Linked DNA regions of Homo sapiens: region 2 is linked to region 1. Evidence: fine-mapped expression QTL. Tissue or cell type: whole blood. Region 1 holds a variant in brackets; the other region holds the start of a gene. All regions are shown on one strand. Distances are between the middles of the regions.

Evidence for each region. PIP is the estimated chance that this variant, and not a neighbour inherited with it, causes the effect.
Region 2: it holds the start of EFHD1, and the variant in region 1 is the best candidate, but not a certain one, in a credible set for the expression of EFHD1 in whole blood (INTERVAL, PIP 0.51).

The regions. Positions count from the first base shown.
Region 1 is chr2:232,575,119-232,579,354 of GRCh38, reverse strand. It overlaps a transcript of EIF4E2 not described here. Among named protein-coding and RNA genes, the nearest start is that of EIF4E2, 27 kb to the right of the region's middle. The variant T/G (reference allele first, on the strand shown) is at 2,363.
Region 2 is chr2:232,631,592-232,635,591 of GRCh38, reverse strand. EFHD1 (EF-hand domain family member D1) reads right to left here and starts at 1,988. Exons shown (of 4, transcript NM_025202.4): 1 at 1,586-1,988. The coding sequence starts at 1,887. RefSeq lists silencers at 1,519-1,813, 1,891-1,950.

The DNA of each region.
Region 1 (4,236 bases):
CAACTATCTTCAACTAAAGAGCTGAAGGTTGAAAACAAAGTTAATAGGGTGGTCATCTTTTTAAAAGGCTAATGGTATTTTTAAAAAATTCTTTTCAAAAGGATAGACCCCTCTGAGATGCCACAAGTAGCTAGCAAAGGATAAGGAACATATCTGATCATAACACAGAGAAAAGCAAGCATAACTGGTGTGTGTGTGTGTGTGTGTGTGTGTGTGTGTGTGTGTGTGTGTATTTCTGAGTTCTCTTAGGGAAAATATGCTGTGTTACAGAGATGCATTACAAAAGACACTTTTTTTGTACCTACACTTAATACTAAAGAAAGTGATTTCACAGGAACAGATGGCTCTGTTCCATTTCTTCCCTTTTACAGGCACGTCTATGCCCACCTAATCATTGGACACCACAAGTCTATCAGGAGGGATTCTGCTCTTCTTATTAAAAGAAACTAGAAAGGCAGGGATATGGGAAGGTAGGAGCAGAGAATTTGCTGACTTGGGCAATTATCTATCTTGGAGTAAAGGAGATGGCAGGCAAGTGTCTGGCCCCAACTCTTTCAGCTGTTTAGTGACGGAAAAAGGATTTTCAGGGTAATCATTACCATAAGCAGGTCATCTTATCTTTTGGAAGAATTTCTCTATTGTACTAGGTGGGCCAGAAATAAATTCTTTCTCTGTAGCAGATAAACTGGAGAGCTCTAAAAACACTTTCTCATTCAGATTTTTTTTTTTTTTTGAGATGGAGTGTCACCAGGTTGTAGTGCAGTGGCACAATCTCAGCTCACTGCATCCTCCGCCTCCTGGGTTCAAGCGATTCTCCTGCCTCAGCCTCCCAAGTAGCTGGAACTACAGGCGTGCACCACCACGCCCAGCTAATTTTTGTATTTTTAGTAGAGACAGGGTTTCACCATGTTGGCCAGGATGGTCTCGATCTCTTGACCTCATGATCCGCCCACCTCAGACTCCCAAAGTGCTGGGATTACAGGCGTGAGCCACCGTGCCCAGCCTCATTCAGATACTTAATATTTTTGTTAATATAGACCACTTTATAGTCAGAAAACCTAAGAAATCATATTCTAAAGTCCACTTGCAAAGTGAAAAGGGGGAGGAGAAGAGTAAAGGAAAAGCCAGGAGAATCCAGCTGAGTTTTTCCAGTTTGATTTAAGAGGAAAACAGAACAGCAAATGGGGGTGGCCTGCTCCTGACAGTGACAGACTAACACAGGCTGGTGGCAGTGATGCCCTATGGCTTTGGTCCAGCCTTCTTTAAAAAAGTGGGTTGAGAACAGCTTGATGCCAAATTTGGTCTGAGGAATGTGTTCACCTCAAGCCAGCTGGGAAGTGATACTCCATCACATCCCTCACCCTAGGCTCAGCGCAGAGAGATTAGGAGGCAGAGAAAGGGAGAATGTAGAAAGGAAGGGGCAGAGGCCACAGGCGACCCCTTAAAAAACAATGTGCTTCTGTTCTTTTAAAAGCAAACTAAAATTTAGCAAATCCACAGTGAGTTCCTGAAAGCTAGCCCTCTAGCAATCTGGCAAAGCTGTGACAGCAAATGGGCTATGCTTAGGACACCAAAGAGGACACAGAAGCTGACAGTCCCACAATGCTGGAAGAAAAAAAAAGAATTATTTCTCTACCAGATGTTCCTTTGTCCTGATGATGTCTCAGAAATATCCGAGAGCCCCATTCAGACTGGCTTCCAACTTCACATTCCCAGGTATCTTGGGGAAAATCGTTGTCCAAATACTCTGAAACAGCTTTCCAATCTGCTCTACCTTAAAATGGTCATCTTTTAGTACTTTTAGAGAAATGGACAAGTTCCAACTCTGAAAACAATGAACTACGGCAGAGATTAACTCCTGAAAATGGATGACAGGGGGGCAAAGTGGTCATTCAGAATGTCCTCCCCTCTCTTGGGAGTTAACTGCCACTGTGCTGGTGCCTGGCAAAGGCACCTGAGTGATTCTGGGTTCTCAAGTGAAAGCTGGGAGTCATCCAAGGAGGAAGGCTACCTATGTCTCTGCTCTGAAGATTGGCTCTGAGGGGTCCCGTAGACCTAAGTGCACATGGTCTTCAGGAGAACATTCTTTGGCCATTAGCTGTACACCCCAGGCCAGTTCTGGCTTCCTCTTCTCTCCCTGCATATTCAGTAAAGCTGCAAACTCTTTCTAGTTTCAGTGAGGCAAATTCCAGTCTCTCGTCTTCAACTTTATTTTATTCCAACTTCATTTCCCAACAATACAGACTCACTGCTCTGTGTATACCAGCCTAGACAGCTGAGTAATCAGAATCCTTTCCTATCAGCTCACTGAGAGTTTTACTGAAGTCATAGTTAAAAGGGCAACACTTATTTCCAACAGGAG[T/G]CAAATGAAATTGTCCTAAAATACTAACAGTCACAGGTAATGACATAAAATAGCAGATAAATTGAGGAAAAATATTTGTGATTCATGAAGAATTATTTAAATAGCAGTTTCTCTGCCAAATTTCTTCATAGATCACAATCTATTTGGAGGAAAAAGAAAAGGGAGAGAGGGCTAAAATGTTAAGGGGCCTCTAAAATGGCAGACCCAACAAACGTAAGCCAGGGATGCATATCTTCTCGAACATCTCTTTCACTTACAGCGAGGTTAAATCAATAGAAATGCGACATGAAGTCCTTTTCAAGTCTATTAAGACAATGAAGTGAGTGGATTTTTTGTTGTTGCTGTGTAAATTCATTTTTCCCCCCTACTTTCAGAATAATTTTTGGTTTAAATTCAAACACTCTTCACGGACTTCCAAGCCTGTGCTTTAAGGAAAATACCTGAACCACGAGTGTTCTCTTCGTCTGCCTCCCACACTGTATAAAAAAAGACACGGGGGCCACAAAGAGACCACAAAATGGCAATTATGCAAATATATGACTTTTTACGGCAATTCAAAGATATTTTTCCTAGGGGATTAAATCTGCCAAGAGGGGTGGGAGTTATTTTGAGTTTTCTTCCATTCTGACTATTCCGCTTTCATTTTAAAGACTTTTCACTGAACCTCAGATGCCATCAATTTTTAAAGGTACATCATTTTATGTACTTTAAGAAGTAAACACTGCCCATTAAACTATGACAAAACCTTTTAAAATCACATTCACTGTAAGCATCCCCAGTTTTTTTTTTTGAGATGGAGTCTCGCTCTGTTGCCAGGCTGGAGTACAGTGGCATGATCTTGGCTCACTGCAACCTCCGCCTCCTGAGTTCAAGCGATTCTCCTGCCTCAGCCTCCCAAGTAGCTGGGACAACAGGTGTGTGCCACCACGCCCAGCTAATTTTTGTATTTTTAGTAGAGACGGGGTTTCACCATGTTGGCCAGGATGGTCTCGATCTCTTGACCTCGTGATCTGCCCGCCTTGGCCTCCCAAAGTGCTGGGATTACAGGCGTGAGCCACTGCGCCCAGCAAAGCACCCCAATTTTAAGAATATTAAAAGGCTTACAGAAGGAACAGGATTGAAAAAAAATATTAAAAGCCAAAAAAATCTTAGAAATAACTAAATATGGTAGTATTTTAAAAACAGCTCCATTATAGCACCTGGCTTCTGAAAATTTAACTTAATATCTTATTTCAAATATTTACTATTTTTTAGCCTAAAAATCAATGATTTATCTACTATTAAAGCTGGTACCTTTTTCCTCCCTCTTTGTGTATACTAGCAGCACTCCTGGAATTCTATGTTGACTATATATACAGACACTTATATATATGCACACATACACAGACATATATTTAGAAACAAGGGTCTTACTATATTGCCCAGGCTGGCCTTGAACTCCTGGGCTCAAGTGATCCTCCCACCACAGCCTCCAAGTAGCTGGGACAATAGGCGTGTGCCATGATACCAGGCACTAATGTTGACTATATCTTAAAGAGAATCATTTTAAATTTTAAGCCACCAGAAGACTGAATTTATAATAAAGAAATCAAACTATCAAAACAAAAAAGGTATGGGTGGCATCACTTGTGTGTGCAGGAACTCTGCAACTGTGTTTTATCTGTATATCATACCTACACCCCTGAGCTCTCAGGCCCTGGCCACCTGCTGCTGTCCCTCAGAGTGTCATCTTGTCTCTTCTAGCCCACGGGAGGGATGCAGGTCTCCTTTTCTGGAAAACGCTCGTCTCCTTCTAGGGAAGGGGGAATTTTGAGGTAGCTACTACAGTTGACATGTTCTGTTCCAATTTTACAACTACTCTATTTCTTAGGGAT
Region 2 (4,000 bases), 56 kb before region 1:
CTGCCTCGTCCTCCCAGAGTGCTGGGATTACAGCCGTAAGCCACTGTGCCCGGCTCCCCTTTGCGTGATCCTGGTCCAGTACCTGTTTGCTCACAGATGCCACCTTGCTTCGTCTCCCAAGACCCTCTGAGCATATGGACTCTTTTTATCACTCTTAGGTAGTCAACTACAAGTTGATCTTTCCAAAGATTGTTTTATAGGAAAAACAAAAGAAGCCTGAGTGGCCACAAGAAAACTTGAAGATAAAGGTCCCTCCCCAAGATCCCCTGAATCCAGCTGGACTGGGAGGAACTGGTGGGGTCTGGGAGCAGCCCGGCCAGGGCAGTCTTCCCATGAAAGGCATTACCCCAGAGAAATCAAAGGGCTCCAACAAACCTTGCCTCACCCATTGCTTTTCCATTTTCGCCCCAGCCGCATTCTTTAGCGCACTGGGCCTTCCTGAACTGCCCAAACTAGACCCAGAAAACGCCACAGATCAGTGCCTGGAAGCCAGACAAAGAAACCAGGGTGTCAGGGAGGCAGAGGAGGCGGAGGCTCCCAAGTGCCGGCTCTGCAAACCTCCATGCAGGGGCAGCGGAGGCTCAGGCGACGCAGCGCCAGTCACAGCGCCTTTAAATAGAACCTCCACGCGGAGGGCAAACACATTCCATGCGCTTTTAAAAACGCCCAAGCATGACCTGGCCGGCGGCCTCAGCTCCCCCAGGCATTTTTCCGGTCTCGGCTCAATTCTGGAAATATTAATAGCTCGGTTAAGAGCTTACCGGGTGCAAAATACTTTTCGGCCTTAAAAGGCAGGGACTGTTACTGCTCCCACTCTCCAGATGAGGAAACTGAGATCCCCGGAGGTTCCAGGCGACGAGGTGGACTAGTGGGTCTCTATCGCCTGCCTCTGGCTCAGTGTCTCCCCAGGTGAGCGGCTCCCCGCGCACTGGGGCTCACAGAGCAGGACCGCAACGAGCCCCCGCCGGACCGGTGCCAGCGGCCAAGTTCGGTTCCCACAACCGCCCCCCCTCCCCGCGCCCCCAGGAGGCTCCCGGGCCGCGCCTGCTCCAGGAAAGTCCTGAATCTCTTACAACGACTTTACCAAACTCCCCGTTCTCGGCCTCCGCTCATTCATCAGACCCCGCGCTGCAGCCAAGGATTAACTTTCCCCTTTTGTTTTAAAAGATAAAAGGCCAACAGGGGCTAATTTTTCCCTTGGGGGGATACAGTGAAAGCTGGCAGGTGAGGCGCGGCGACGGCTCCCTTTCCTAGAAGTTGCTTTCGGAGCAAATCTCCGGACTGGCGGGCGGAGGGGGCGGGACCAGTGGTCGGGGTTGGGGGACCTGGAACTCGGGCCCGGCAGCCGCCGAGAACTTTTGGGCTCCGTCCCGGAGAGCTCCTGCTCCTGGTGTCCCCCCTCTTCGGCCCCGTCCCCCACCGCGCCGAGATAGACCCGAGCACGCAAGATCTGGCTGCGTTGGGCCAAATGCTACCTGCACCCCGGGACCCCTCCCCACACAAACAGGGCCCGGGACTTCGGACCAGAAAGCCCTCCCGCTCCCTCCCTGGTCCCGGGGGCGAAGGGCGCGCAGCGGGAGCTCACAGTTTGAACATGCTCTCCAGGTCCTTGATGAGGCGGCGGCTGAACTCCGGGAACTCCGTGTAGGGGTTGAAGACCCTGCAGCGCCGGGGCCGCGCAGCGCCCTCGTTGATGTCCAGCCGCCGGCTCAGCTGGGCGCTCAGCTCCGCGTCGGCGCTGGCCGTGGGCGCACGGGCGGGAGGCTCGGGCTCGGGCTTGGGCTCCGGGGCTGGGGCGCCGAGGGGAGCCAGCTGGGGGCCACTCTCCTCGGCCTCCTCGCGCCGCAGCCGGCGCTCCAGCTTGCACGCCAGCTCCTCACTGGCCATGGCGGCGGATCGCAGGACGCGGGAACGCGGGGACGCGGGACGGGACGCAGGGAGCTGGCGGGCGGCGCGCTCCTCGCAGGCTCGAGGCTCTACAACACTCCGCCGAGGCGGCGGGGACCCGGCGGTTGGGAGGGTCTGAGGACGGACTGGCGGGCGGGGCGGTCGGGGCGGAGCTGCGGCTTTAAGGAGGCGCCAGGGCTCAGCGACTGCCAGCCTGGTGGGAGGAGGCCGCCGGTGTCTGGGTGTCTGCGCGTCCCGGAGACCCCGACCTGCTTCCTCTCCCCGCGGCTCCGGGCGGGAGGCTGACCGTCCCCCCGGGACCAGGCAGGGACCCTCGGATCAACTCCGACCTTGCTGCCCCTGTCAGCTCCGGGGAAAACCGTAGCGGGAAAAAGCGTCTCGACCGTTCAGACGGTGCCTTTCTTGTCCCCCAGAAGTAACCCGACTGGAAGCGCTCGCGGCCCGGGACAGGCTGGGTGGGGGAGGCGAGCGCCCCCGAGCGACACCCACGCGTCCCCCGCGTCTGGGAGTGGTGCCCACCCTCCCCGGGGTCAGGGAGTGGGAGGCGCCCGCCCGGAGCGTGGGGCGGGGGAGCTGCTTTTCAAACACTCATTGGAACGAAATGTTTCCAAAACATGCTAAAAATACTAAAAACAAATAAGCAAACAAAAAAGAGAGAGAGCAAACGAGCAGAAAAAACTCCCGTTTTCCCTAGAGGCAGGAAAGCAGCGTAGCTTCAGGGACTCGGGTTTTTTTGCGTGAAACGCACAAGAAAAGAGAAGAAACCTGGCGCGGAGACTCACATCCGCAATCCCAACACTTAGGTGTTGGTGGCAGGATCTTTTGAGCCCAGGAGTTCGAGACCAGACTGGGCAACATAGTTAGACTGTCTCTACAAAAACTTTTAAAAAATCAGCCAGGCATAGTGGCGCTCGTCTGTAGTCCCAGCTACTCAGGAGGCTGAAGTAGGAGGATGGCTTGAGCCCGGGAGGTCGAGGCTGCAACGAGCCATGGTCAGGCCACTGCACTCCAGCCTGGGCGACAGAGTGAGACCCTGGCTCTAAAAATAAACGAAGAAGAAGGAGGGAGAGGGGGAGGAAAAAAGAAAGGAAAGAAGGAAAAGAAGCTTGAAAATTAAATCAGCATTTTTAACAAGAGGGTAAAAACAAATACAGTCGTCATTCTCCCCAAGGAAGGCTGATGCCGCTGTTACATCAGCCAGGCGTTGAGAATCTTGTAAACACGGGTCTGTCCCCACTTGAGAACGACGCTGCTCTGACCCACCATGGGCTGATGACTGGGGCAGGTCAGTGACCCCGCTGGACTATGGTTGTCTGAGACCCAGGGACCAGCCTTTGGCATGCGAGTGCAGGGCATGCGGGGGACCTGGGTTAAAATGTTATTTTTAAAAAGTTATAAAGGAAAATACGTTTTTTAAAGAAAAGTATAAAAATCTTTAACATTCCTACTGAACAACTTGACTTGGTACAGAGAATACGGGTTTTACATATACAATGGCAACCCTGCAAATAGATCACGGGGCGCTACACTTCCTGACCTGGTGGTGGTGACTAGAAGGTTGGCTTTGTTGTCACATCTGTTTTGACCACTTTATGTGACACATTTCAGAGAAATAAGGTCAAAAATTTTGTGTAATTAAACTTTTTTTAATTTTATATTTTAAAAACTTTTTTTTTTTTTGAGATGGAGTTTCATTCTTGTTTCCCAGGCTGGAGTGCAATGGCATGATCTCGGCTCACTGCAGTCCCTGCCTCCTGGGTTCAAGTGATTCCCCTGCCTCAGCCTCCTGAGTAGCTGGGATTACAGGCGCCCACCACTGCACCTGGCTAATTTTTTGTATTTTTAGTAGAGACAGGGTTTCTCCATGTTGGCTAGGCTGGTTGTGAACTCCTAGCCTCAGACGATCCTCCCACCTCGGCCTCCCGAAGTGCTGGGATTACAGGCATGAGCCACCACACCCAGCTGGTTTTGTTTTTGTTTTTTTTTTTTTTTAATGTTCTTATTCCATCGAGCTCTCCTCAAGAAAGAAAAAGTTCAAAATTCTTAATAGTCTCCATCAACAAGAAACTCTGGGGCTGGGCGCGGTGGCTCA